Homo sapiens: one gene and its partners. The protein of the gene in region 1 purifies or fractionates together with the protein of each later gene. This does not show direct contact. Each region holds a gene or a part of one and is shown on either strand. Other genes may lie near its edges. The genes, in order: SCML4, FBXO11, UBR1 and KDM5C.

Region 1 (7,221 bases):
ATGAGAGAAAGGACACTTTTTGCCCCTTTGTAATTATGGCCATATCCATAATCACAACTAAGCACTCCTCCAACCCAAAGCGTCATCCTGTTTCAGCAGACCGATGTTTTGAGTTAGAGATAAAGCAGTTCTTAGGCTTGTGAAATGTCAGAGCCATAAGTGACCACAAAGATGATCTAGTCCCTTATTTCCTTGTCCCGTGTTATAGAAAGTCAATGATTTCACCCATGTCATTGGGTTAGTGGTAGGGCTGGAACAAGTGGCAGTGCCAGGATCCATGAGGTGGAATGATTAATTAGAGTATCTTTGGGCACAGACTGCCTGGGTCAGACCTGTGTCTACCACTTCTAAGCTGTGTGTCCTTGGGCAAGTTATTTAACATCCCTAAGTCTCAGTTTCCTTATCTGTAAGATGGGAATGGTATCATAATACCTACTTCATAGGATTGTCATAAATGGGATACAAAATGGGAAGGGCTTCACACATAATTCTTCAGTAAATGTTAGCTATCACTGTTATAACAAAGGTTGTTTCGGCGGTAGCACTGACTGCCAGTCCAAGACAGAATCCTCTCGATCGGATGCTTGTGTTGGAAAACACAACTCTTTAGGACAAAGGCCATTTTCAATGTGAACGGTGTCTTTACCAGCAGCTGACAGAAGGATTACTCTTCAAATGGAGGCTACTCTAAGTAGATTTGCATTTGGGACGCCCCCAAATTAACTTGCTCCCTCTGGTTGCCTCCTGCTAACCACCAGCCCAGTAGCACTCGTGTGGAGAGAGTGGAACATGCTGCTTGTGGTCTGAGACAGAAATGTAACCACAGTGCAAAGAAAATTAACAACGTGGCACAACCTAAGCACCCTTTTCATGGGACAGGGATGTACAAGACTTAGAGAGATGCTAGCTCAGAGCGGTCACTTTTCTTCTTAGCAGGTCCCTCAGCTAATACCAGTCATCCCATCAAATTTCTTTTTTCTTACATGTTTAACTTAAATTTTTCTTGGAATTAAAAACATTTAGGATTTTTTAAAATATTGATTTAAGTTATTAAAAGCTATGTTCCTGGTTGCATGAAGAAAGAAATCCCAGTAAGTTTAAATATATATATTTTAATAAATGTGTGTATATACAGATATATTTAAATAAAAAAATTTAAGTAAAAAATATAAAGATATATTTAAATAAAAATATACATTTAAGTAAAAAACAAATATATATTTAAATAAAAATGTAAATATATATTTAAATAAAAATGTAAATATATTTAAATAAAAATATAAAGATATATTTAAATAAATATATTTACATATTTATTAAATTTATTAAATTACATAATTTAATGAATAATTTATTAAATATCAAATATTTTGAATAACATATTTAAGTAAATAAATATTGTTTACTTAAATATATACATATATATAAAAAATATATATATTTTTTGAGACGGAGTCTCGCTCTGTCGCCCAGGCTGTAGTGCAGTGGCGTGATCTCGGCTCACTGCAAGCTCCGCCTCCCGGGTTCACACCATTCTCCTGCCTCAGCCTCCCAAGTAGCTGGGACTACAGGCGCCTGCCACCACTCCCAGCTAATTTTTTGTATTTTTAGTAGAGACGGGGTTTCACCGTGTTAGCCAGGATGGTCTCGATCTCCTGACCTTGTGATCTGCCCACCTCAGCCTCCCAAAGTGCTGGGATTACAGGCGTGAGCCACCGCGCCCAAGCAATCCAGCTTTTGTTGATTTCAATTTTAGGCTTTATTACCAAGTTGACCTGTTAGATGACAATGGGTGCTTCCCACATGCACCCACCTTGAGGACAAGGACAACAGTAGCCCATCTGGGAGGAGGCAAGGAGGTTGGGCCTGAGGATCAGAGTGAGAAACCCTCACAGAGCTGGGTAGGAAAACCAGCAACTCCTTTCTTATGGGTAGATTCTGCCAACCCTTTTACTTCTTTTACAGGACTTGGAGATTATTTCTGATTACTTAAGAAATGTTATTTTTTTTAATCCTAAGAAACATTTTAGAGTGAAAATTGGTCTAATGTCTCAGCCCATTCCAGGTGCTTTAAGCTCAGTGTAGTGTGGCATGTGTGAGGCCACGGGTGTGAGTATAATAACCGCTGTCGCTGGGACAGAGATGCTGTCCAAACTTAAATCATCCATCTTCTTTCCTTTTCTTTCCTTTTCTTTTCTTCTTTTTCTTTTCTTTCTTTTCTTTTCTTTTCTTCTTTTCTTTTTCTTTCTTTTTTCTTTTTTTTTGAGATGGAATTTCACTCTTGTCACCCAAGCTGGAGTGCAATGGCGTGATCTCAGCTCACTGCAACCTCTCCCTCCCAGGTTCAAGCGATTCTCCTGCCTCAGCCTCCCGAGTAGCTGGGATTACAGGCAAGCGCCACCAAGCCTGGCTAATTTTTGTATTTTTAGTAGAGATGGGGTTTCACCATGTTGGCCAGTCTGGTCTCGAACTCCTAACCTCAAGTCCAGGAGTCCCAAAATGCTGGGATTACAGGCATGAGCCACCACACCTAGCCCATCCATCTTATTTTCTTTTTTTTTTTTTTTTTTTTGAGATGGAGTCTCGCTCTGTCACCCAGGCTGGAGTGCAGTGGCACGGTATCGGCTCACTGTGAGCTCCGCCTCCCGGGTTCACGCCATTCTCCCTCCTCAGCCTCCCAAGTAGCTGGGACTACAGGCGCCCGCCACCACGCCCAGCTAATTTTTTGTATTTTTAGTAGAGACGGGGTTTCACCATTCACAGGATGGTCTCGATCTCCTGACCTCGTGATCCACCCGCCTTGGCCTCCCAAAGTGCTGGGATTACAGGCATGAGCCACTGCACCTGGCCCATCCATCTTATTTTCTTTTCTTCTCCTCTTCCTCCTTCTTTAGTGAAATCAACTTATATGAAATGAAAATGCAAACTACCAAACCTGCCTTTTCCCATACAAAACAACAAAATTTGATGATTAAATGAACTAAAGTAGTGAATTTCTTCTTGCTCAATTAATTACAAGGCTTTGACTTAAAACAATTTTTTATATTTTCATAATAAATTTCAGAGGAGAGATTTCTTATGTACTTCTAATGTGACTCTACACATATATTTAGAGAAACCTCAAGTTGTCCATTGCAGTTTTTTTCACTCTCAGTAACTGGCCAGGTTGTGGCCTAAGCCTTCGTTAGCCCTGGTTGATATTTAGTCCCGGCTAAATTTGTTTGCTGCTCATCCCTAGGAGTAAGCCACATGTTTGTAGAATGGATGTTTCATCTTGTAGGAAATACCTGTGAATATGCCAATATCCCAGAGTGGATGAAATGGGCAATGGGGAGCCCTGCTCCACTTTACAAAAAGAAAGGAAAAGAAAAGATCCCTTCGCCGATATATATTGATTTGCTGCAGAAAATGCAATGGGGCATGGGAATGAATAGTCACTCTTGCCCTGTTTCTATCCTGTGCAGGTCCCACCACGTTGAGGTGGGTAGAGATGCTTACACACACACACATACAGGCCTGGAGCCAAAGTCAGGGCCGGCTTTAATGAACTGTACACATATGTTGTGGGCAGCCGCTGATTTAATATGTACAACCATGGTGTGTGCACACACCTGGATAGGCACACTGCTCTGGGAATCACACAGGGTCTCCTGAACAATGATGCTATTGTAATATTTCTTTTTGTTTTATTTGTCCAAAGTCAAACATTCACTCTGTCAGATCACCAGTGTCTTATAAGCCTGGTGTTGGCCCACACTGCTGCAGGATTGGGACAAAGAGACGATGTTACAGTCTGGTTTCTATGGCAACAGAGGAGGGGTAATGAAAACTGAAATGTTGGAAACACCCATTCTAACCATTGTGACATAATTCAGGTTATTACAAGGATGTAACTACCAAAGAAGCAGAAGTGTCATTACCTTGCAGCTCATGTCGACAAAAAGCTACACTGCACATTTCTCTTAGGCTGCTAAGAGGAAGGAAACACAAAACACACACACACACACACACACACACACACACACACACACACACACACACACACAGAGGCCTCGTTTTCTGCATGTAAAATGTGTGTGTTCTTTAAAAGCCAGTGGTTGGCTGGTTTTCCGGACATGATGTGGTTGAAGCTGTCATCGTAATGGAAATTCATTGCTGTAGCTATGGTAAATCGAGTTTTCTGCCTGTGCTGAATGCATTAGTCTAATGAGATGTTTGCAGCTGGAGCGCAGGGCTGCTGGAGACTAACTGTGAGCTACTAACACGGGTGGAAGATAGCTTTTGCAATACTCGGTTTGCATGTGCTGAAAGTCATCTGTCTTCTGAGTCAACACTCCCGACCTGGTAAACAACCTGCTCAGGGCTCTGGTGAACAAGCTGTAGGTAAGGGAGATGCACAATTGGAGGCGTGCCGTTGACACGGGATCTTTCTCTTGTAACTGTCAGCATGACAGGTTACCTGTTTCAGTTTTTTCTGGGTTGCATGCCTACCTCTATGGCAACGCACAAGAGTGTCCTGCACTAAAACCACTGAGTCCAGTAGGTAAACTTTAGTTCCTCATATGCAAAGTACAGCATTTAATTTATTAACCAGATCTCAGAGGGGAAAATGTAACATTGAATTATATAGTTTATAAATTTGGGCTATATACATGTTCATTACTCTTTAACTCTGCATTTAAATACCTAGAAAGTTATTTTTTTCCAAATGTGAACTCAAGTAACCGGTTAGTTATTTTTTCCCTTCACGATAATTTTGCTTTGTTTTGCTTTTTAATTTTAAAAAAATTGTACTATGTCTTGGGATAAAAATATTTACCTAAAATTTGGTTATTAAAATTGGTATGTTATGAACATGTAAAAGTGTTTTTTTTCCCATTTAATTTTATTTCAAATATCCCAGGTAGAATATTTCACATGTCTTTGTGCTGGTTTTTCCTAATTTATGAGGCATAAATAAGAATAATATTTACTGCTAGTTTCTGGTTTTAATTCGTTTTTTGGGAAAAAAACTGGTGACTATGGAGTATTAGCGGCAGTTTTCCCAAGCTCAAAATCACCTCCTTCCCAGGTGGAGCACTGTGACTTGAACCAGCTTCCACGTGCTCCTCCCAAAGCATGAGGGGTCCTCTCCAGGTTGATTGCTGGCTGGACAGGAGCGGTGGATGAGGCCAGGGTGCAGGCTGCTGAGCTGTTTTGCTGAGTTGAGGTGCTTGAGTCAAAGTTCTTTCCACTATCTGTGATCGTGAACGAGAGGTGTCTCCTCGTGTTGTCTCTAGATTCCATGACGGTACTCATGAGGGTTAGACAATCAGTGGCTTTCTGAGAAAGTGGTTTTTTACTGATCTCAGACACTACAGTACTTGAGAAAGTAATCCAGGCACTTCAGAATCAGGGTATTTGTTATATGCTGTTTTTCTTTCTTTTCAACCAGAGGAACCATTTTTGAAGAATGAGGGATATAGCTGCTTTTTTTCTCCACTTTTTTTTTTTTAAAGCAAAATAGAATATCTGGAGTGAAAGCATAAAAATAACTACAAAGGAATTCTTAGTGTGTTAAACTATCTGGGGGGTATAATATTTGTGTGGAGCATTTTTTGTGTTGCTTGGTAGAACTAGTCTGATAAAATGAGGGGCTGTTTGAGCAACAGCAGCTGGGTGAAGATTACCTAGAAAATCGGTACTGCGTGATCGTCTAAACTCAAAAGGTTAATGTAGAATCTTCAGTTTTAGGGAAATTGGTGGCTTCACAAACTATAACTTTTAAACAGGCTTTTTGACAGAATTTTTAAAAAATATGAATGTGTTTTCTTTAGCTCTTTAAATTGTGTACGTAGATGAGCTCTGAAATATTTTGGTAAATTCATCAGTTTGCTTCATTTGTGGAATTATAACAAAAGTGCAAAGCCCACAAAAATCCAGTTCTTTCATGTATAACATGTTTACATTTCTTCCCTGTGTCCCCAAAATTACTTTTATTTTGCTGCAAAAAAAAAAAAAGAAAAGAAAAAAAGAAAAGAGTAAATGAACGGTAATAGAAAGACAAGAAAACAATAAGCGAAACGAGTAAGTTGCTTTTCATCATTTCTTTGCTTTTGGTGGTGTGTTTTCGAGGCGAGGGAAATCAGCAGAAGCAGTTTCACTTTCTGGTTCTTGACTCCTGGGGGTGAGGGTGAAAGGCTGTCTCCTCTAGCAAGCAGCAGGTAAGCTAAGCAGCTCAGCCCACAGAAAACAAGCCAGACCCAAATACTGTCACTTGCTGCAAGAACTTTTATAATGAGAGTTCAAAACAATATTGACTTTAAAAAAATACTCAGTAACACTTTCCTATTAAAAAATTCAAGCACTACCCCAAAGTACAAAGATAGACTTTTTTAATTTTTAAAATTTGAAATGATGAGAAAATCATCTCTGCTGTTTATGTATTTTTAATCTCAATTTTGGATCTCAAATACTTCAATACTTTTAAGGAAACATAACTGAAGTTCCCTGAAATCATAACAAGGAATGCTCGGAGAGGAATAACCTTTCTGGGAGTCTGGGGGCTTAAATGTTAGAGTGCTTCGTAGGTCTGTTTACAATTTTGTGTGGCCTGAGGACACATCACACATGTGTCCACACATCCTTTATGACACGCACCTTAAAGAACTTTTGGTCCAGGCAGAGGTGGTGGCTGGAGCTTGAAAGCCCTCACAGGGGCCCTGTTAGGGATCTGCAGGACAATTTTCCTCCCCAAGTCCCTGCCCTCGGAAACCTCAATATCACATGGGTAGATGCCAGGGAGCCGGGATGTGCCCATCCCACTCCACAAGTCCTGAAGAGCGTGGCAGGTGACACTACCCCTCATTGGGCTGGGAGCCTTAGGATACCAAGCATCTCCAGTGTCATTCTTCCCCTGAGCCCTCAGATTTTATGTGGGGATGGAATGGGAAAGAAGGGAAAGGAGATGAGAAAAGACCCTCTTTTAATCTGATTATCATGGAGCGTAAAATCTTGTCTAACATTTTGTGGATGAAGTTTGTGAAAGCAGTTGCCTTTGGTGTGATCACACAAGCTTCTTTCTTTTGGTGGGCACATCTGATGTTTCTAAGAAGGAACTTTTAAACAATGCCTCCCTAGACATCTTATTTCTTAATTCTGCCATCTCTCAAAAGGCTAGTTTTAGATTTACACATTTTTTAATGTTTTCATTGCCTTCAAAAGCAGACAGGTGAGGAGAGA
Region 2 (7,027 bases), on another chromosome or scaffold:
CACTGTACTTAGTCTTCACTTTCCAGTTTTAGGTATTATCCACTGACTTCTATTATGGGACAGCAGAATTTAGCTCTCCTACCTCTCTATCCCCCACAATATATACTCACACATTGTATCCTTTCAGTGTAGTTTAACCTTAATTTTGGTTAGATTAGTGTGCTATTCAGAGTTGAGCCATAAAATATGACTTCTTTGCTGCACAATTTTTTGGATTTTTTTCTCCTTTGCTTAGCTTTCTAGTGACAACTCTATCCTAAACTTGTTGCTAGTTGTCCAAATCACCTCTTCTTTTTATTTATTTTTTTGACACAGAGTCTCACTCTGTTGCCCAGGATGGAGTGCAGTGGCCCAATCTTGGCTCACTGCAACCTCTGCCTCCCAAGTTCAAGCGATTCTCCTGCATCATCTCCTATAAATCACCTCTTAATACATTTACATTTACATTAGGTTTACCAATTTATCTTTCTGAACAGCTTTATTGGAGCTTTAACCTGCTCCAATCTGGTTGGCTGCCCTGGTCACAGGCATGCAGTCATTTACCACATTGTATTAATAAATTAGGTTAAGGATTAAATATGTCACCTAATTCCATCAAATATGGAGTTTATAATCTGTATCTTTTGTTTCAGAGTAACTTTCAAGAAAATAAAGCAGCAAAAAGTTTTCTTTTCTCAACGACCTTAAAATGAGAAGCCTCTACATTGGCACAACAATGATTTTACTACCTTTAGAAATGACAAAGATTGATTGACTTATAGTTTTATAATTTTGCAAGAAAACTTATTTTTATTATGGATTCAGTTAATGTAATTTTGCTTCAAGATTTTTTTGTTTGTTTGTTTTTGTTTTTGAGACAGAGTGTCTGTCGCCCAGGCTGGAGCGCAGTGGCGCACTTTCGGCTCACTGCAACCTCTACCTCCTGGGTTCAAGTGATTCTCCTGCCTCAGCCTCCCGAGGAGCTGGGACTTTTGGTGTGAGCCACCACGCCCAGCTAATTTTTGTATTTTTAGTAGAGATGGGGTTTCACTATGTTGGCCAGGATGGTCTGGAACTCCTGACCTCAAGTGATCTGCTCGCCTCGGCTTCCCGAAGTGCTGGGATTATAGGCATGAGCCACTGAACCCGGCCTGCTTCAAGACGTATTTTAATAGAATGCAACTATTTTGTTAAGCAATACCTCTAGTACAAAATAAATCAATAATACAGAACTGTAAGAAATTAGATTTTTTTTTTTTTTTGAGGTGGAGTTTCACTGTCTCCTAGGCTGGAGCGCAGTGGTATGATCTTGGTTCATTGCAACCTCCAAATCCCAGGTTCAAGCAATTTTCGTGCCTCAGCCTCCAAAGTAGCTGGGATTACAGGTGGGTGCCACCATGCCCAGCTAATTATTGTATTTTTAGTAGAGACGGGGTTTTGCCAAGTTAGCCAGGCTGGTCTCGAACTCCTGGCCTCAAGTGATCCACCTGCCTCAGCCTCCCAAAGTGCTGCGATTACAGAGCTACCAAGCCCGGCTGAAAAAAATTTTTTAAGAAGACGGGAATCTCCCTGTCACCCAAGCTGGAGCTATCACAGGTCATTACAACCTTGAACTTCTGGGCTCAATCAATCCTCTTGCCTCAGCCTTCCAAGTAGCTAGGATTATAGGCGTGTGCCACCATGCCCAGCTAATTTTTAGAATATTTCTTTAGTAGAGATAGGGTCTGTCTTGCTCAGGTTGATCTTGAACTCCTGGGTTCATGCAGTCCTCCTGCCTCAACCTCCCGAAGTGCTGGGATTACAGGTGTGAGCCACTGTGCCCAGCCTCTGCTTTGTCTTTTAATGCAAACCACAAAAGTTCCAACATGTATAAATTTTTTGAAGTAAAACATTCTTTATTAAATATGACAAAGTAGGCCAGGCGCGGTGGAGCTCTTGAAGTCAGGAGTTCTAGACCAGCCTGGCCAACATGGTAAAACCCTGTCTGTACTAAAAACACAAAAGTTAGCTGTGCGTGCTGGCAGGCATCTGTACTCCCACCTACTCGGGAGACTGAGACACAAGAATTGCTTGAAGCCTGGAAGGTGGAGGTTGCAGTGAGCCGCGATTGCACCACTGCACTCCAGCCTGGGTGACAGAGTGAGACTCTTGTCTCAAAAAAAAAAAAAAGACAAAATAAAAGGCATTCAAGAGTTTCACAAGAAACTCTCCAGATTAAAAAAGAGAGAAAAATGCTATCTTCATAGAAATAAACTTCCACAACTCTAATCTATAAAAACACTTACCAAATACTGTGAAATCTGGGTAAGAAAGAGGAGGGTGCTGGGAACTAACCAATGTTAGTACCTTAGACTTTCAATGAAGTGTAGTTGTCCCCAAGTAACTAAAGGCTATAATAAGCTTAGCTTATTATTATCTTCTAACTAAAGTGATGAAATCTAATGGCATGAATATGCCATGAATTTTTTTATTTTTTTGACAGAGTCTCACTCCTCTGTCGCCCAGGCTGGAGTGCAGTGGCATGATCTTGGGTCACTGCAACCTCCACCTCCCACCTCCCCACTTCAAGTGATTCTCATGCCTCAACCTCCTGAGAGGCTGGGATTACAGGCACACGCCACCACGAGGCAGTGTTTCGCAGTGTTGGCCAGGCTGGTCTTGAACTCCTGGGCTCAAGGGATCTGCCTACCTTGTCCTCCCAAAGTGTTAGGATTACAGGCGTGACCCACTGCACCCGGCCTCAAAAAATTTTATAGTTATTTGGCACTGCTATGACATTTTATTTATTTATTTATTTATTTTTTGAGACAGAGTCTTGCTCTGTCGCCCAGGCTGGAGTGCAGTGGCGCGATCTCGGCTCACTGCAACCTCTGCCTCCTGGATTCAAGCGATTCTCTTGCCTTAGCCTCTCGAGTAGCTGGGACTTGAGGCGTGCACCAACACACCCGGCTAATTTATGTATTTCTAGTAGAGACAGGGTTTCACCATGTTGGCCAGGCTGTTCTCGAATTCCTGACCTCAGGTGATCTGCCTGCTCGGCCTCCCAAAGTGCTAGGATTATAGGCATGAGCCACCACACCTGGCCTGCTATGACATTTTAATCTTATTTTACAAAAGTAACAACTCTGCACTGAACTGAGTATTAAACAAACAAAAGACAATTGGAGAACTGTGAACATTAAGAGAAAATTTGATGATATTAAGGAATTATTCCTAATTATTGAGGAGTGGATTAGCACTGTGGTTATGTGAAAGAAAAAAAAAACACCCATCTTTTAAAGACACATGGTAAAATATTTACAAGAGATGATGAAGTCTGGTATTTACTTCAAAATAATCCAGAGTGTAAAAAAGGTAGTAAAACGTATGAGGTATACATTAAACAAAATTGGCCATGAAATGATAGTTGTTGAAGGCAGACAATAGGTACCTGGAGAGTCATTACACTATTCTCTCTACTTCAGTGTACGTTAGAAATATTTCATTAAAAAAATGTAAAAATTAAAGGCAACACCCACACTGGAAGCAAAATAGCAGCAGAAAAACAAAACCACGGAGACATGGTAAGGAACACAGATTTGAGGAACTCACACAACACTAAACAGAACAGAACATAGCAATATAAATAACCAGAAAGATAGCTAAGTTTCTAAAGAAAGGAACATATGGAACAGAAAAATAGTAAAACAATACATCAGCAAAAGCCAAAATATGGATACTGAGGTAGAAGAGCAATCTTTCAAGCAAAGAAGAAAGAAAAAAACCCAATGTGATCTCAGAGTTCTCAGCCATGCTCAATGCTACAATAGAAAAATGTCTACAGAATCGTGAGGGAAAGAAAGAAACTCAGCTAAGTTAAAAGGCAATGGATAGGGATTCTCGCATGGCAAGAATTCAAGCTACAATATCCATAAGGCGTTCTTTAAAAAAAACAAACAAAAAATGGCTGGATGACAAAACCTAGCCATACCAAGAATGAATCAAAATTTAAATTCAAGAATGGAGAAACGATGATAAAAGAACTAATGATAAATAAATAAAGAATAAATATAGACCAATAACTGTAGGAATGCAAATATTTTAAACCTTTGCAAAATAAAAATAAAAATGATGGGGTGGAGATAGATTGAAATACTTTATAAATCTTAAAATGTATAAATCTCATTAATCCTTAATGGAAATATCTATCTATAGCATTGTCTAGACTTATTTTTAAAAATGCTGTGATATTTACAAGCCCAAATCTATTCTTTAAAATGGTATAAGGAGTGTGTGTGTGATGAGGAGTAACTTACTATGGTGAACTTTAATAAGGGACCATCCCATCACCAGAGGTCTTTCAAAAATGATGAACTTGGCCAGGTGTGGTGGCTCACGCCTGAAATCCCATGCAAAGGCACACATCTTACATCTTGGCTCACTGCAACCTCCGTCTCCTGGGCTCAAGTGATCCTCCTGTCTCAGCCCCCAAGTAGCTGGGACTACAGGTGTGAGCCACCATGCCCAGCTAATTTTTGTATTTTTTGTAGAGACAGAGTTTCACCATGTTGTCCAGGCTGGTTTTGAACTCCTGAGCCCAAGCGATCCAACTGCCTTGGCCTCCCAAAGTGCTGGGATTACAGGTGTGAGCCACTGCACCCGGCCATGGTCTAGTTTAGTTTAAAAAAAGAGCTCTGCCTTGGCCAGGCGCAGTGGCTCATGCCTGTAATCCCAGGACTTTGGGAGGCCGAGGCAGGTGAATCACTTGAGGCCAGGAGTTCAAGCCCAGCCTGACCAACATGGTGAAACCCTGTTTCTACTAAAAATACAAAATTAGGCAGGCGTGGTGGTGCATGCCTGTAATCCCAGCTACTTGGAAGGCTGAGACATGAGAATCGCTTGAACCAGGAGGTGGAGGTTGCAGTGAGCCAAGATCACACCATTGCCATTGCACTCTAGCCTGGGCAACAAGGGTGAAACTCGGTCTCAAAAAGAAAAAAAAAAAAAAAAAAAAAGAAAAATGAAAATAAAAAAATTTCTTTGTATAGATGAATCCAACATTCCCAGGATTGCTTAATATTGTATAATAGGCAACAAAACCTCACCATAATCCTATTTGCTACAATGTGGTGACCCTCTCTCCCATCTTGGACTCCGCAACAAAAAATTTTACCAATGCTGTATTAGGACTTGAAAATTACCTCAAGGAAAATTTGACATTAAATGAAAAAAAATCTGAAAAGACATTCAAAACATTATTTTGAAATGGTGATCTCAGAGCTCAAAAAGTCATGTCTCTAGAAAATTATGTAAAACTATAAGGTAATACTTAAAACACAGTATATTCCATAAGGATGCCTAATATTAACTGCTGCATAATGGTTTTAAAATTGGTATTTTATCAATGTATCTCCTATTAAAGTTCTGCCAGTTTAAAATTTTCAAGAGGAATTAAATGAAAAGCAAAATAACAATGAAACCATTATTTCTCAAAGTATACTCTACAAACTGTGTTAGATTCACTTATGTTGTTTATTAAAAATACATATTCTAAGCCCCATCCTTGGAAATTTTGATTTATTAAACTGGAGGATACAGGAATTTTCTTTAAAACAGAAAGCTTTTGGGTGGCTTTTATGAACACACATTTGAGACTTAATTAACGAGTTATACCTTACTCCCCTCAAAGATCACATATATTGCCTAAGAACGCTATCACCTCTACATGGATATGTCTGATGCATAAATTTACAGAATAAATATTTCATATTAATTTTAAAAAATAATGCTGAAATTGCTTTTAAACCTATACTCTTCAATTCAGATAATTTGGTGATGAGAAAATAATGCTGAAACATACTTGGAATTTAACTGATACAGAAGTCCGTTTTTCTATTAAAAATAAGTGTTCTTACCATGCCATGATCAAATGTGAACACACCAACATCACGTCCATGATGAATATGATTCCGTCTAATAATTGGGTTTCCATGATTTTTAACCCAAATCCCAGCTAACGCATTATTGGAAATTTCATTATCCTCATATATTCCCTACAACAAGTTATCAGAAACAAACATCAGTAGAGCTTTTAAACATTTTCTAAAAAGAAAAAAACCACACAAAATTAAAAAATACCTGTGCATGATCTGTTATATATAGTCCAACATTTTCACAGTCACTGATGTTACAGTGCTTGATGGTGGGACATGCTCCTTGACCACTAACACATACTGCAGAACCAACTGTAGAAAAATTATTTATTTATGTAAAAACCTACTGGGCAACATACAGTGACTCAAAATTTTATTGTAAAATATAAAGAAAACACTAACCTGTACATGTACTTCGGATGATACAGTGATCAATAATAGGGCTACAATTTACTGTAATCTCTAAGCAGTGGTGTGCATTGTGGTGTTGTGCAGATTTGTCATCAGGGTTAAACTGAAAAGTAAAAATTTTGTTTGAAATAAACAATTACTGCCTTTATGATTTCAATGTGTATTTTAAATCTTAACATGTCTTACCCTTATTGTCATATATCCAACATAAGCATCTTCAGAGCCTTCCATAAAAACGAAGGTTGAATCTCTAGTGTTTTCAATTATAACTTTGTCTGCCACTTTCCCAGGTGCTGTGGAGAAGATATTTTAAAGAATATTACCTTTATTCGATTTCAACAGATGGGTATCTTTATGGAGGGGGAACTTACTAAAAACATTAGTACTGAGTAGTGGGACTAATATTCACTATCAGTTAACTATGTTTCATCATCAGCCTTTGCTATATTCAAATCCATGCACAGTATTACTTCTAATAACATTTAACTATAAATACTATGAATATAAAATGCAACGGCATATTAAAAAATGGTTTCTTGTGGAAACAAAAACAAAAAATGGTTTCTTGTGGAAACCATTCTGTTTCCAGCAGCAGCACTGGAAACAGAAGCTCAAGAAGAGAAGAGACCTCTATTTAAATTTATTTCCAACAGTGGCCTCGATTTAGAAAGTAATAAAATCACCAGACAAACATTTGCTCTAATCTATTCTCCCCATCTTCATGA
Region 3 (6,669 bases), on another chromosome or scaffold:
TTCTTAATCCAGTCTATCGTTGTTGGACATTTGGGTTGGTTCCAAGTCTTTGCTATTGTGAATAGTCCCGCAATAAACATACGTGTGCATGTGTCTTTATAGCAGCATGATTTATAGTCCTTTGGTTATATACCCAGTAATGGGATGGCTGGGTCAAATGGTATTTCTAGTTCTAGATCCTTGAGGAATCGCCACACTGACTTCCACAATGGTTGAACTAGTTTACAGTCCCACCAACAGTGTAAAAGTGTTCCTATTTCTCCACATCCTCTCCAGCACCTGTTTCCTGACTTTTTAATGATTGCCATTCTAACTAGTGTGAGGTGGTATCTCATTGTGGTTTTGATTTGCATTTCTCTGATGGCCAGTGATGGTGAGTATTTTTTCATGTGTTTTTTGGCTGCATAAATGTCTTCTTTTGAGAAGTGTCTGTTCATGTCCTTTGCCCACTTTTTGATGGGGTTGTTTGTTTGTTTCTTGTAAATTTGTTTGAGTTCATTGTGGATTCTGGATATTAGCTCTTTGTCAGATGAGTAGGTTGCGAAAATTTTCTCCCATTTTGTAGGTTGCCTGTTCACTCTGATGGTAGTTTCTTTTGATGTGCAGAAGCTCTTTAGTTTAATTAGATCCTATTTGTCAATTTTGGCTTTTGTTGCCATTACTTTTGGGGTTTTAGACATGAAGTCCTTGCCCATGCCTATGTCCTGAATGGTAATGCCTAGGTTTTCTTCTAGGGTTTTTATGGTTTTAGGTCTAACGTTTAAGTCTTTAATCCATCTTGAATTAATTTTTGTATAAGGTGTAAGGAAGGGGTCCAGTTTCAGCTTTCTACATATGGCTAGCCAGTTTTCCCAGCACCATTTATTAAATAGGGAATCCTTTCCCCATTGCTTGTTTTTCTCAGGTTTGTCAAAGATCAGATGTAGATATGCAGCATTATTTCTGAGGGCTCTGTTCTGTTCCATTGATCTATATCTCTGTTTTGGTACCAGTACCATGCTGTTTTGGTTACTGTAGCCTTGTAGTATGGTTTGAAGTCAGGTAGCGTGATGCCTCCAGCTTTGTTCTTTTGGCTTAGGATTGACTTGGCAATGCAGGCTCTTTTTTGGTTCCATATGAACTTTAAAGTAGTTTTTTCCAATTCTGTGAAGAAAGTCATTGGTAGCTTGATGGGGATGGCATTGAATCTATAAATTACCTTGGGCAGTATGGCCATTTTCACGATACTGATTCTTCCTACCCATGAGCGTGGAATGTTCTTCCATTTGTTTGTATCCTCTTTTATTTCATTGAGCAGTGGTTTGTAGTTCTCCTTGAAGAGGTCCTAAACGTCCCTTGTAAGTTGGATTCCTAAGTATTTTATTCTCTTTGAAGCAATTGTGAATGGAAGTTCACTCATGATTTGGCTCTCTGTTTGTCTGTTATTGGTGTATAAGAATGCTGGTGATTTTTGTACATTGATTTTGTATCCTGAGACTTTGCTGAAGTTGCTTATCAGCTTAAGGAGATTTTGGGCTGAGACAATGGGGTTTTCTAGATATACAATCATGTCATCTGCAAACAGGGACAATTTGACTTCCTCTTTTCCTAATTGAATACCCTTTATTTCCTTCTCCTGCCTAATTGCCCTGGCCAGAACTTCCAACACTATGTTGAATAGGAGTGGTGAGAGAGGGCATCCCTGTCTTGTAGCACATAATTTTCAACAACTTCTCCAAAATTTGAAGGTAGTGTTTCCCCAAAATTTTTAAAGACACCAGCCATCTTAATGTTTCAGTGTTCTATTGTTTGTAATCAACCTTTCTTCAGAACTACTTAAAAGGATTGACACTGATAGTATAAGTTTGTAGTGTCCAGTGATGAAGTTTGTTTTAGAGATATTGTTTCCATTGCAATACTTGAAACTTTTTTTTTCTTTGTTTTTTGAGACAGTCTCTCACTCTGTCACCCAGGCTGGATCTCGGCTCACTGCAACGTCTACCTCCAGGGTTCAAGCGATTCTCCTGCCTCAGCCTCCCAAGTAGCTGGGACTACAGACATGCACCACCACACCCGGCTAATTTTTTTTGTATTTTTAGTAGTGACGGGGTTTTACTGTGTTGGCCAGACTGGTCTCGAACTCCTGACCTCAGTTGATCTGCCCACCTTGGACTCCCAAAGTGCTGGGATTACAGGCATGAGCCACTGCACCCAACTGAGACTTTTTATTAGCCAGCTATATCAGCCTTCTTTCCTTCTGAGCATTAACAAAATATTTAGAATCCTGAACTTTTCTGTATCCTTCCCTGGTGGTAGGAACTGGGGTCCTACTGATGACTTATGAAAATGAGGAGACTGACAGTGATCTCAAAAGTACATATAGATAAAGATTAGACCTCCTTACAATAAACTCTTTTTGGTTCACTGAAATTTTGTTCCTTTGAAATATTGCTCAGAAAGAATACACTTATTAGATGGGGCTTGGGACCTTGGATCACACAGAGCTTTCTTTTTATTGGGATGACATTTGACCTGTCTTTAGGTTTAGGGAGAAAAGCAGAGTGGTGAAAGTAGTTAATGACTGAGAATCTTAGTTGTTCCACAAGGGTACAAAGCAGAGTTTTAACATTAATTTGGCAGTTTAAAAATCCCCAACCAGGCGGCCGCGGTGGTTCACGCCTGTAATCCCAGCACTTTGGGAGGCCGAGGCGGGCGGATCACGAGGTCAGGAGTTCGAGACTAGCCTGGCCAACATTGTGAAACCCCGTCTCTACTAAAAATACAAAAACAATTAGCCAGGTATCGTGGCGGGCACCTGTAATCCCAGCTACTCTGGAGGCTGAGGCAGGAGAATTGCTTGAAACTGGAAGGCAGAGGTTGCCCTGAGCCGTGATCGTACCACGGCACTCCAGCCTGGGCAAAAAGAGCGAAACTCCATCTCCAAAAAACAAAAACAAAAACAAAAAAAATCCCCAACCAGCTGAGAGACTTGAATGTCTCAAGGAATTAGGATCTCACAGTTCTCCGTTACTGGCAACAGCCAGACTTAAGTCATTTTGGATTAGCTGTTATACAGTGTTAAAAACTGTGCAACTCTAGAATTGAAGTATAATTATTTTATTAAATTATTTGCTAATAACCAGCCAGTTTTTTGTATCGTAAGGACAGTTACAACCAAATATCTCTGAGTAGCAAAATATAATTTTAGGGCCTAGTGTTATACGTCAGGCCTAACCTCTACTGTGCAAAGATCATAAATTGAAGCTAGATAACAATATGAAGCCAAAAAGCTATTCAAGCTAACCACCAAAAAAGAATAGTGCTGCTTCAAGTTATAAACCTCAGTGACCATTTAAGTGAGGTCCCATAATGCCATAATATACCTGACCTATTTTATGAATGGTCAAGGAGTACATTTCTGCTTTATTAGCTAAGTAGCCTGTCAAGTTCTTAGTGATCAATGGTGAAGGGAAAATATCCCTTTTTAAGCCCTGTGCTGGTGAGTCCTCCCGGCTCCAGGAACATCTCAAGAGTGCATACTAATTTAGACAATAAAGATGTGGCAGTTACTAGATTCAAACTTACATGTTGTTTTTTCTTTTTTCCCTAAAGGAGGGGCAACCCCCTTCATTTATCTCGTGAGCGGTATCGGAAGCTCCATTTGGTCTGGCAACAACACTGCATTATAGAAGAGATTGCTAGGAGCCAAGAGACTAATCAGATGTTATTTGGATTCAACTGGCAGTTACTGTGAGCTCCAACTCTGCCTCAAGACAATCACAAATGACGACAGTAGTAAAGGCTGATTCAAAATTATGGAAAACTTTCTGAGGGCTGGGAAAGTATTGGAGGGTCTTTTGCTCCATGTCCAGGTTCACTTACATCAATAAAATATTTCTTAATGGAGTATTGCTTTCAATTAGCAAACATATGCTTCACAGGAAAAAAGGACATAGATCAATCTGTTTTATGTGCTAGTATTTCCAGGAATTTATTCCCCTTCATAATTTGTCTCATTTCATTTTATTTCATCCACTTGGTAGATGAAGTCACGTCAAACAGTTGTAGACATTTTATATGTTGGTTAACTCTTCTGCAATTTTGTATTTGGTGTTTTCCCCCCAAGTTTAGTTCAACTGACATTGGATCACTGACAAAATTCTAATAATCTGTGATAGTCTTCCTTGCAGTTAAAGAAGAATTGCAGAAACCATGCAATATACTTGGGAAAGATTCCAAAAATAAATTTTTTATTATTTCTCTTTTAAGGAAATACCCCTAATGTGCCACCTGCTGCTATCACCACAAATTAAACTCAATCTCTATGTGGACAGAGGATGATTTCTGCCAATATGGAAAAGCTTTTTTCTCACTGTAGGCCTCAAGAAAAGTTAGGGTAATGTATTTGTTATTCATTCCTGACGGTACAAAGAGCTTGCAGTTCTCACCTCTGACTACCAGTAGCTTTGTTGAGTTTTGAAATAATACTTGACATTTTCCAAAGGCAAATCTCATTCTGCAAGGAGATTGTGGCACCATCCTGTTTGACTCTCAGAAACCTCTTGTAATTCTGATGTAAAAACTGTAGAATGAAGATGAGAAAATTCTCGCAATGAGTGGATCATGACAACTGTAAATTAGAACAATCAGATTTAAACCAATTCCGCAGTCTTCTATATCTTTGTAAAAGACAAATCCTTGATGTTGTCTGTGTGCAACCTTTTCATAAACTCTGGTTTTATGACTAGTACAAACCACCAAAAAAGCCATGTGATCAATAGTCTGTGTCCTGTTATAACATGCTGTGGTTGAGCCATCTTGTTTATAAATAATAGAGCTCTCCTGAATTTGTGCATAGACTTCTTGGTTCCTGGCTTTTGTTTTTTGTATCAAGAGATTGTGATATAAAACAGCAGAAGATAAATGGAAACCTTCCATTTTAACTTACGTTGTTTCTGGGGTAATGTTAGAACCTTGAAAGATGCATTCAAAGACTGTATCTTATTTTGCCCTTGGCTATTAGTGTCTCACATATGTGTGTAAATGTTTTCCTACCTTCTTTTTGCTCAGCAAAGGCAAGCAAGTAAAATATATTTGCTAAGTGATTAGTGATGCACATTTGGGGCTAGATTTTTTTGGTACTTTTATGTAAAGAAAAGTGGATTTTGCAGTAAGGGATTGGCATGAGCAGGCGTCAGAATCACAATCATGATTTTCTACTTGAATAATTACAATTCAGAAGGTATCTGGATAAATAGATACATGTCTAGTGAACAATTTGTAACAATAACAGGTAAGGATCAGGAAATTCAGTATTCAGTTTGTCAGATTTGCCAGAATGATGAAAGTATTTGAACATGTGTGTTTGTTTCTTATATAATTGTATTGAGTGGATTGTTTGACTGGGAAATCTGGGCTAGAATAGGAAACAGAAGATACTGACTTCTACCCTAATAGATGGGCCCCAATTTAGCAAAGATAAACTGACTTTATTTTTAGTCCTTTTTATATTAACTTAATAAATTCTGGAGTTAGGCTCTCAAGAGGACAGAGGGACTGTCTGGCAATGGCCAGCCAGACCTTTACTGCCAAAGAACCCATTTCATATTGCGTTCCACTGATTGAGATTGATTCAGATTTTTGCACTGTAGATGAGCGTATGTCTCAGTGCTGCCCCAAGCCCCAGGGATTTCTCATTATGTTCAAATGTCCTAGTGATTTACCTTAATCATTGCAAACAATTATGCTTATGAAGTTTACTTACAAACAAGCAACTGAGTCACTTTATTTTCTTTAGTGTAGTATGTGAAGGCACTGGTTCAACAGGATGGCTCCAGAACTGTGTTTTTCTAATGTTTGGTAAGGGGCTAGTGAGAATTTTAATGATATGGTGAAGAAAAATATATCTGTATAATTAATTTATTATATTGGTGTATGGGCTGTGAGTTCACCTTTTAGTGGTCATTTGTCATTTCATAACAACTATGCATTTTGGTTCACTGTGATGATGATCTATATTTAGTGACTGCAACATGTTTATACCACTGATTCAAATTCCATCCATGATGAAGTTATACAAATAATGCATATATTGATAACTTTTATTGCAAAAATGTAAATTTAAAACTTGTATAATGTTCTTGTGCTTTTTAAAATAAAATATATGTGTATATTTAAAAAGAAAAATAGGGACTTCTCATGTTTGGGGATTTGGGTTTGAAGTATAAAAATCTGCTAGGAAGACTCTCCAGTTGAAACCTTTGTCAGCCGAGGCAAATGTTTTAAAAGACATAGGTGTTTAGTATACATGGGTCTCCAAACTTTTTAGCCATATACTCCATCAATAAATAGTTTTTAGCATGCATACCAAATAGAATATAAACACATAACACATATTTTATATTCTATATGCAGTGCTTTACTAATACATCATGCAAATTATAAAACATAGCTTTAAAAGGAGATTTAAAAATCAGTTAAAAATAGAAATAGATATTTAAATATCTTCCAATCCAATCTGCATCCTTTTGGGTATGCACGCTCTAATATGGAGACAGCTGTCTAGAGCAGCAGTATCCAGAAGAGTTTTGCAATAATAGGAATGTTCTGGCCGGGCGCAGTGGCTCAAGCCTGTAATCGCATGACTTTGGGAGGCCAAAGTGGGGGGATCACGAGGTCAGGAGATCAAGA
Region 4 (7,027 bases), on another chromosome or scaffold:
TTCTTCTCTTTCACTGTCTCTCCCCCCCGCCCACGTGTATGCATGTATGTATGAACATTGATGTCTGGTGTAGTGCAAAGGCCTTGGATCAGAGGTCAGAAGACGTGGGTTCTTGGCCCCACCACTAACTCAGCATGTAATTTTGGAAATTTCACTTTTTTTCTCTGAGCCTCACTTTCCCCATTTATAAAATGAGAACATTGGTTTAGGTTACTTTAGGTTGATTTCACCACCCCAGCAGGAGCCAGGGCTCTGGGAAGGAGAGGTCTGCATAGGAGGTTGGAAAGGGGTGTTGGAGAGGGGGTTCTTCACAGCTGACCTTTGGGCAGGACACAGCAAGCTCCAACTTGGCAGAGCAGAGTGTCTCCCACTTTCATGATCTTTCCCTGACTTCCCTCCCCAAATCCTCCCATTCTTTGCCACCACAGTCAGGCATCCCAGCACTTACCCCCACCCCCTGGGGCTTCCTCCCCTGCCTCTTCCTGTACCAGGCAGGTGTATGAGAGAGGATCTACAGGAAGCCTTCCAGACTGGGTGAGTGATACACATACTTGCTCCCTGTTCCTTGCTCTTCCCTGCAGTGTCTATCTCAGGCCCTTTAAACTGAGAGAACAAACATTAAAGGCCCAAACCTTTACGTCCTGCCACAATCGGACCTGAGCTACCCTGCATGTGTATTGTGAGGTGTGGTCAGCCTTAGATGTCAGGTCATAACGGTGACTCCTTTGAATAACATTTTCATTTGAAAACTAGTTTTAATTTTCCATATTGGTCTGGCAAGGAAGCCAGGGCTAGAGTTCATATTCCCACCTCACAGATGAGAAAACAGGTTCAGAAAGCTAAAATCTCATAGCTAGTAAGTAGCGGATCTAGAACATGAACCCATATCTTCTGACTCTAGATCCTGTGTGCTTTCCAGTACTCCCAGGCCTGTGTGTCCTACAGCACGTGCCTAGGGGATAAGGAATTAATGTGGGTGTGGAGAAGGTTTAGGGTCAACAAAACAGAGGCTCCATCTCTTAATTTCTTGAAATCCTGGCACTGTACTGTTGGGTGGGACTCAGGAGAAGTTTCCTAGGGCATGTGCATGGGGCCTTGGGTGCAGACTTGAGGGGCTGCTAGACTCTTGTGAGTTCTGGGGGGAGGTGGGGGTGGGTGGTTGGGTAGGATGTTTGCAGGTTAAAGGGTCTGGAGTGGCTAGAGGTTTGGGAAGGTGCCAGTGGGATTCCGAGCTGCTTTTGGTGACTTCCGGTCTTACACTATGCTGAGATAACTCAAGTCCCTTTCCCCTCTCTACCCTCTCAGGACTGGCAGCCACCCTTTGCTGTGGAAGTGGACAACTTCAGGTTTACCCCCCGAATCCAGAGGCTGAATGAGCTAGAGGTGAGAAGACTAGGAGCTGGTGGTGGGGTTGGGAGAATGTATACCTGAGTTCTAATCCCACTTCCCTTATAGTTTCTCTGGCTGAGGTACTTTACCTAGCTAGGCCTTTATTCTCTCTTCTGTGAAATTGCATTACTTTAGTGTGCCCAGGGCGTGGAAGAAGCTTTAGAGCTCTAAATATAACCAAGAGCCAGGGGCATTTAGCATTTGTGATTTGATAGCCCAAAGGCTGGGGACATATATCCCTTTCTCACAAAGGTTTGCTACTTCTGAAACTCCCCTGTAAACTAGCCTACCCTAGCTGAGTCAACAAAAAGGAATTATGGAACTGGCTGATACCCCTTCTTCCTTGGCCAGCTGAATGTGGCTTCATATATCCAATTCATCCACAGCCCTGTGCTTTCTACTTTGCTTCCATGGGTGCTTGGTAAGGTGGGAGTTTGGGTAGATGGGCAGAACAACACAAGAACTGGGCTCTGTGGAGGCTGGAATGGTTAGAGACTTGGCCAGGGGTCAGGCAGGTAGGATTTTCCTTCTCCCTTTTGTTCTGTACAGGAAGTCCAGGCCCTTTTCATGGACAGGTGGGGTTTTTCCTGCTTGAGAATGCCCTGGGGTAGTGAGATTAGGTTCCCTAAAGCCAGTTCCACGTAAGATCCTGGAGTTTTCCATGGCAGCTCTAGGTTAGGCATATGTTGCCACTCCCTCCCCCATTATTATGTACCCACAAATCTTAATAGATGTCCAAGGGGTGGGGCATTAGGCCCAGGCCCAGCTGAATACTTATACCCTAAAAGTTCACTTGTGTTCTAGACCAGAGTTCCTCAGCCTCGGCACTATTAACATTTTGGGAAGCTAAGGTGGGAGGATTGCTTGAGCTCAGGAGTTCAAGACCAGTTTGGGCAACATAGCAAGACCCCATCTCAGAAAAGAAAAATATATCTTGTCAGGTTTATAGGGGTACAGCTTGGGCAAGATGTTGCCTAGCATGACACAAGGGCAGGTTTTCTGTAGAGGGAGTGCTGACTAATAAGAAGGAGCAGGGATGAGGCCAACTTCAGAAAGCTAAGGGGCTGAGGTTGAAGGAGCACTTCCTTGCCCTTTGAGAGTTCTCACAGCCAAGGAACTGTAGGTTGTTTCTTTCTACAAATAGACCTTAGTTTTTCTCAACTATGAAATGGAAAGAGCTGTCTTTGTTCCCCCTAATGGGATCAGGGCAAGGTAGTGAATGGTAATGACTATCTAGTTCTTCCAAGAACCAGGCTCTCTGACTGGAGTGAGGAGGTTGTAGACTTGGGGCCTATGGGAGTCCTTCTTGGTTACTGAGATTTCAGGGAAGCATCATACATATCTTGTTTCTAGTCTCCTTGGCCCACATTGGGTCCTGGGTTGGCCAGGTGCTAGTGCTACTCTGATATACCATCTCTTAGTTCTAGGCCATTCTGTCTATAGTTATAGCATGCACTTTCACCCTTTAGCCACCATGGAACAAGTTTGGTGGTACATAAGGAGGTGCATGTGCCTTTTTGGAGCTTGCTTTCTCTGAAACATGCCTAGAGCTTAGATATAATTCTGAAATCTGCAGAGGATCTTCACTGGTCCCCTCATTAAGTCTACCCCTCTGGGGTAAGTGGACTGTGCAGTTATTTTCCTTTTATAATTATTAGTAAAAGGAAAAAGGAGTCCACAGTGGAACTGATTTGCTCAAGGCAGCATAGCAAATCAGTAGCAGAGGGAGAGCCAAAGCTCAAATTATTTGGCACCAAAATATCTTGATGCTTGCTGTGTGTCCTAACTCCTCTGAGCCTCTGTTTCCTCATCTGTATAGGAGATGATAATACTCACATGACCTTGTCAGGGAGATTAGAGGACATATCTAAAGCTTTTGGCAGTTGTGACCCTCTCTATTGGGACCTTGGGCTTCTCTGATTGACTGGAAGGTGACAAATGAGAGAGAGGTGGCTGGGTGCAGTGGTGCAGTGGCTTGTGCCTGTGATCCCAGCTCTTTGGGAGGCCGAAGTGGATGGATTGCTTGAGCTTAGGAGTTTGAGACCAGCCTGGTAACATGGTGAAACTTCATTGCTACAAAAAATACAAAATTAGCCGGGCGTGGTGGCGTGCGCCTATAGTTCCAGCTACTCAGGAGGCTGAGGCAGGAGGATCACTTGAGCCCAGGAGGTCAAGTCTACAGTCAGCCGTGATTGCACCACTCCATTCCAGCTTGGGCGACAGAGCAAGACCGTCTCAAAAAAACAAAAACGAAAGAAATGAGAGTGAGGTGGGGCTAAGCACTGCCTAGAGTCTGGGATCCGGTTCATTGGGAGAAACCCTGGGTAGTGAAAGTGTGGAGTGCTGTATTCCTCTGTTCTCCCCTAAGACTGGACCCAAAGATAGTGGTCAGTGGGAGGGGGTGGCCAGCCTCTTTGAGCCATTTCTTCTTCAGGCCCAGACGAGAGTGAAACTGAACTACTTGGACCAGATTGCCAAATTCTGGGAAATCCAGGGCTCCTCCTTAAAGATTCCCAATGTAGAACGGCGGATCTTGGACCTCTACAGTCTCAGCAAAGTAAGAACAGGTTTTTGTCAAGCACCCCTCCCACCAAACCCCAATATCCTTGATACTCTGGGGGCCCCCTTAGTTTGGATATTAGATCTTTAGGCTGCAATGGAAGGGGCACAGCTTGGTAGCACACAAGCTGTCATCAGAACATCTTGGAATCTTTTGCTGCAATTTGAGGTTGGGATAAGGGGATAGCCCCCAGTGAAGTGAGGGACTAGAGTTGCCCTCATTGCCCTTTTGCCCTTTCTACAGGCCTACTCCCTCACATATAAATACACGTGGCACATCCATGTCTTTTCCTACTTGTTTTTTCAGATTGTGGTGGAGGAAGGTGGTTATGAAGCTATCTGCAAGGACCGTCGGTGGGCTCGGGTAGCCCAGCGCCTCAACTATCCACCAGGCAAAAATATTGGCTCCTTGCTACGCTCCCACTACGAACGCATTGTTTATCCCTATGAAATGTACCAGTCTGGAGCCAACCTTGTGGTAAGGATGTCACAGTGGGGCAGGGTGCGGCTTTACCCTTCAGCACAGATTTCCACACTTGCTCTTAATGAAACTGGTTTAGTGGACTGGAGACCTGGGAGTTGGACTCTGCTCTTTCCTAGTGATGCTTATTCTCTTTCTACACTGCTCAGGGTCAGAGGTCCTGGAGTTATCTGTACGGCTAGCTTATTTGTTATGTGACAAAGTTTTAACTGATAGAGAAATCAGAGAAGGGAGAGCTTGGGCTAGAAGGTGTGGGAAGAGATGGCGTCTGATTTAGTTGGGGAGATGGTTGGTGGAGGAAGTGACTGGAAGGGAGGAGTGATACAAGCAAAGGTACTGAGAATTCCCAAAATGTGTGCTGGTGTCAGTGCTAAAGACCAGTGGAACAGGGGCTGTTGGTGTGGGTCAGGTGAGTGGACCACAGCTTTGGATGCCATTGGGTGAGGGTAGAGGGAAGTTATTGCTTTTGCGGGCTGGAGTCCATGTCCTGACCCTTACCCCTTACCTGTCCCCAGCAGTGTAACACACGTCCATTTGATAATGAGGAGAAGGACAAGGAATACAAACCCCACAGCATCCCCCTACGACAGTCTGTGCAGCCTTCCAAGTTCAACAGCTATGGCCGGCGGGCCAAGAGACTGCAGCCTGATGTGAGTACTCCCCTTCTTCGAACTTAGAGCTTTGAGGTGGAGGGAGTCCTCTCCTTCCTTCTGGCTAAGGCTGTGTTCCCTGTTCCATTATCCCTTCTTTTGTTCTCTGAGTTCTTCTGAGCATTAGTGTGCCTCTCTCTGGCTTCACTCTTGCTTTTTTCTCCCCTCTCAGCTGAGCTGCTGAGCTGGGTCTTGATCTGTTTGTGCAACCTCTTTTGTATGTCTGCTCTTCTTGCCTGTTTTGTTCCTTTCCGGACTTACTCTGCTCATAGAAGTAGAACTCTTCTTTCTCTTTATACCTGTATCTTTTGTTTTGTTTTGTTTTGAGGCATAGGGTCTTGCTATGTCGCCCAGACTGGAGTACAGTGGCTATTCACAGGCTTGATCATAATGCACTATAATCTTGAACTCCTAGGCTTGAGTGATCCTCTCACCTCAGCCTCTGGAGTAGCTAGGACTACAGGTGTGTACCACTGTTCCCAGCTCCTTGTAGCTATGTCTTCAGGCAGAAGCTTATGTGCCAGGCATTCTTGGCACTGGGAATACAATAGAGAACAAGATGGACACTGTCCCTGGGCTCATCGAAGCATGTAATTTAGCAGATCCTATTAGACTGCCATTTGTTGGTAATGCCAAACACTGTTAGCTTTTTCATATGTATTGTCCCTAACCCCCCTCATAACTATAAGGGAGGAGGTAATATTCTCATTTTACAGTTGGGAAAACTGAGATATCCTGTCTTTTATTCCTTTCTGAGAGAGGGCCGAGGGGGCAGCTCACCTACCCTCAGTCTCCAAAAAGCAACTCTGAGTTCTTGGCTTAGCCCATCTGTGCCTCAGCCCTCAGCATGAGATCAGGTGATATGTAGTCCGAGTTACTGTTCTTTTAGGATGGGACAGTCTGCCCCAGATAGCAGTCTTGATTCATTTCCTTCTTTCCTTCCAGCCGGAACCCACAGAGGAAGACATTGAGAAGAATCCAGAGCTGAAAAAGCTACAGATCTATGGGGCAGGCCCCAAGATGATGGGCCTGGGCCTCATGGCCAAAGACAAGACTCTGCGGAAGAAAGGTAAGGCCTAACAGGCTGGGGTGGCCTCACCTGGGGAGAAAAGTCAGGGCCCTAAGTGTCCTAGACCTGTGTTTACAGCCATTTTTCTCTCTCCCAGATAAGGAGGGGCCTGAGTGTCCCCCCACAGTAGTGGTGAAGGAGGAGTTAGGTGGGGATGTGAAGGTGGAGTCAACATCGCCTAAGACCTTCCTGGAGAGCAAGGAGGAGCTGAGTCACAGCCCAGAACCCTGCACCAAGATGACCATGAGGCTACGGAGGAACCACAGCAATGCCCAGTTTGTAAGGACCCAGCCCTGACTTCTTAATGCTCTGCTTCTTGTCCCTTCAATAAGCATTCCCCTGCATGGCACTGGACCAGTTCGCATTAACCACAAAAGCGGGCCTCCATGGGCCCTGCCCTCAGGTAGCTCACTTAATTGGGGAAACAAAGCCAACTCATATGGAACAAAGAGCAAGAAAGGGTGATCAAGTGCTGTCAACATGAAGTGCTGGAAGGGTCCAGAGAAGGAGTCTCACTCTCCATTGCTTCAGGATAAAGGCTAAGCTCCTCATTACCATGCATGATCCAGTCCCTGCTGACCTCTAGCCTCATCCCCCAGCACTGCCCACCTCACTCCTCTGCTATAGCCACACTGAACTCCTTGTAGGTATGTTCATTTTTCCCCGTAAGATGCAGTATGCTCTTTCATCCCTATCCTTTGCACATGTTGTTTCTTCAGCCTGGAAGAGATTCCCCCTGTGCTCTGCCCTGTTGCCATGTTTTGTTTTGCCTTCAGGTTTCAGCCAGTTTCAGGTGTTACCTTTTCAATGAAGTCCTTTCTCAAGGCCATCCCTCCTTATCTCCAGCTGCTTTGAGTGCTTCCTTCTCTAGGCTCCCAC

Evidence for each region.
Region 2: the proteins of SCML4 (region 1) and FBXO11 purify together in Homo sapiens (affinity purification with mass spectrometry; 3 studies listed by BioGRID and IntAct, with this or other methods). This does not show direct contact.
Region 3: the proteins of SCML4 (region 1) and UBR1 purify together in Homo sapiens (affinity purification with mass spectrometry; 3 studies listed by BioGRID and IntAct, with this or other methods). This does not show direct contact.
Region 4: the proteins of SCML4 (region 1) and KDM5C purify together in Homo sapiens (affinity purification with mass spectrometry; 3 studies listed by BioGRID and IntAct, with this or other methods). This does not show direct contact.

The regions. Positions count from the first base shown.
Region 1 is NC_000006.12:107,821,288-107,828,508, reverse strand, and holds the start of SCML4 (sex comb on midleg-like protein 4), read left to right. Parts: upstream 1-4,195; 5' UTR 4,196-4,383; intron 4,384-7,221. UniProt on the Homo sapiens protein: Putative Polycomb group (PcG) protein. PcG proteins act by forming multiprotein complexes, which are required to maintain the transcriptionally repressive state of homeotic genes throughout development.
Region 2 is NC_000002.12:47,826,476-47,833,502, forward strand, and holds part of FBXO11 (F-box only protein 11), read right to left. Parts: intron 6,596-7,027; coding exon 6,489-6,595; intron 6,406-6,488; coding exon 6,294-6,405; intron 6,204-6,293; coding exon 6,097-6,203; intron 6,012-6,096; coding exon 5,874-6,011; intron 1-5,873. UniProt on the Homo sapiens protein: Substrate recognition component of a SCF (SKP1-CUL1-F-box protein) E3 ubiquitin-protein ligase complex which mediates the ubiquitination and subsequent proteasomal degradation of target proteins, such as DTL/CDT2, BCL6, SNAI1 and PRDM1/BLIMP1.
Region 3 is NC_000015.10:42,942,393-42,949,061, reverse strand, and holds the end of UBR1 (E3 ubiquitin-protein ligase UBR1), read left to right. Parts: intron 1-3,591; coding exon 3,592-3,733; 3' UTR 3,734-6,165; downstream 6,166-6,669. UniProt on the Homo sapiens protein: E3 ubiquitin-protein ligase which is a component of the N-end rule pathway. Recognizes and binds proteins bearing specific N-terminal residues that are destabilizing according to the N-end rule, leading to their ubiquitination and subsequent degradation.
Region 4 is NC_000023.11:53,215,195-53,222,221, reverse strand, and holds part of KDM5C (lysine-specific demethylase 5C), read left to right. Parts: intron 1-1,305; coding exon 1,306-1,383; intron 1,384-3,823; coding exon 3,824-3,946; intron 3,947-4,255; coding exon 4,256-4,426; intron 4,427-4,944; coding exon 4,945-5,079; intron 5,080-6,024; coding exon 6,025-6,148; intron 6,149-6,245; coding exon 6,246-6,427; intron 6,428-7,027. UniProt on the Homo sapiens protein: Histone demethylase that specifically demethylates 'Lys-4' of histone H3, thereby playing a central role in histone code. Does not demethylate histone H3 'Lys-9', H3 'Lys-27', H3 'Lys-36', H3 'Lys-79' or H4 'Lys-20'.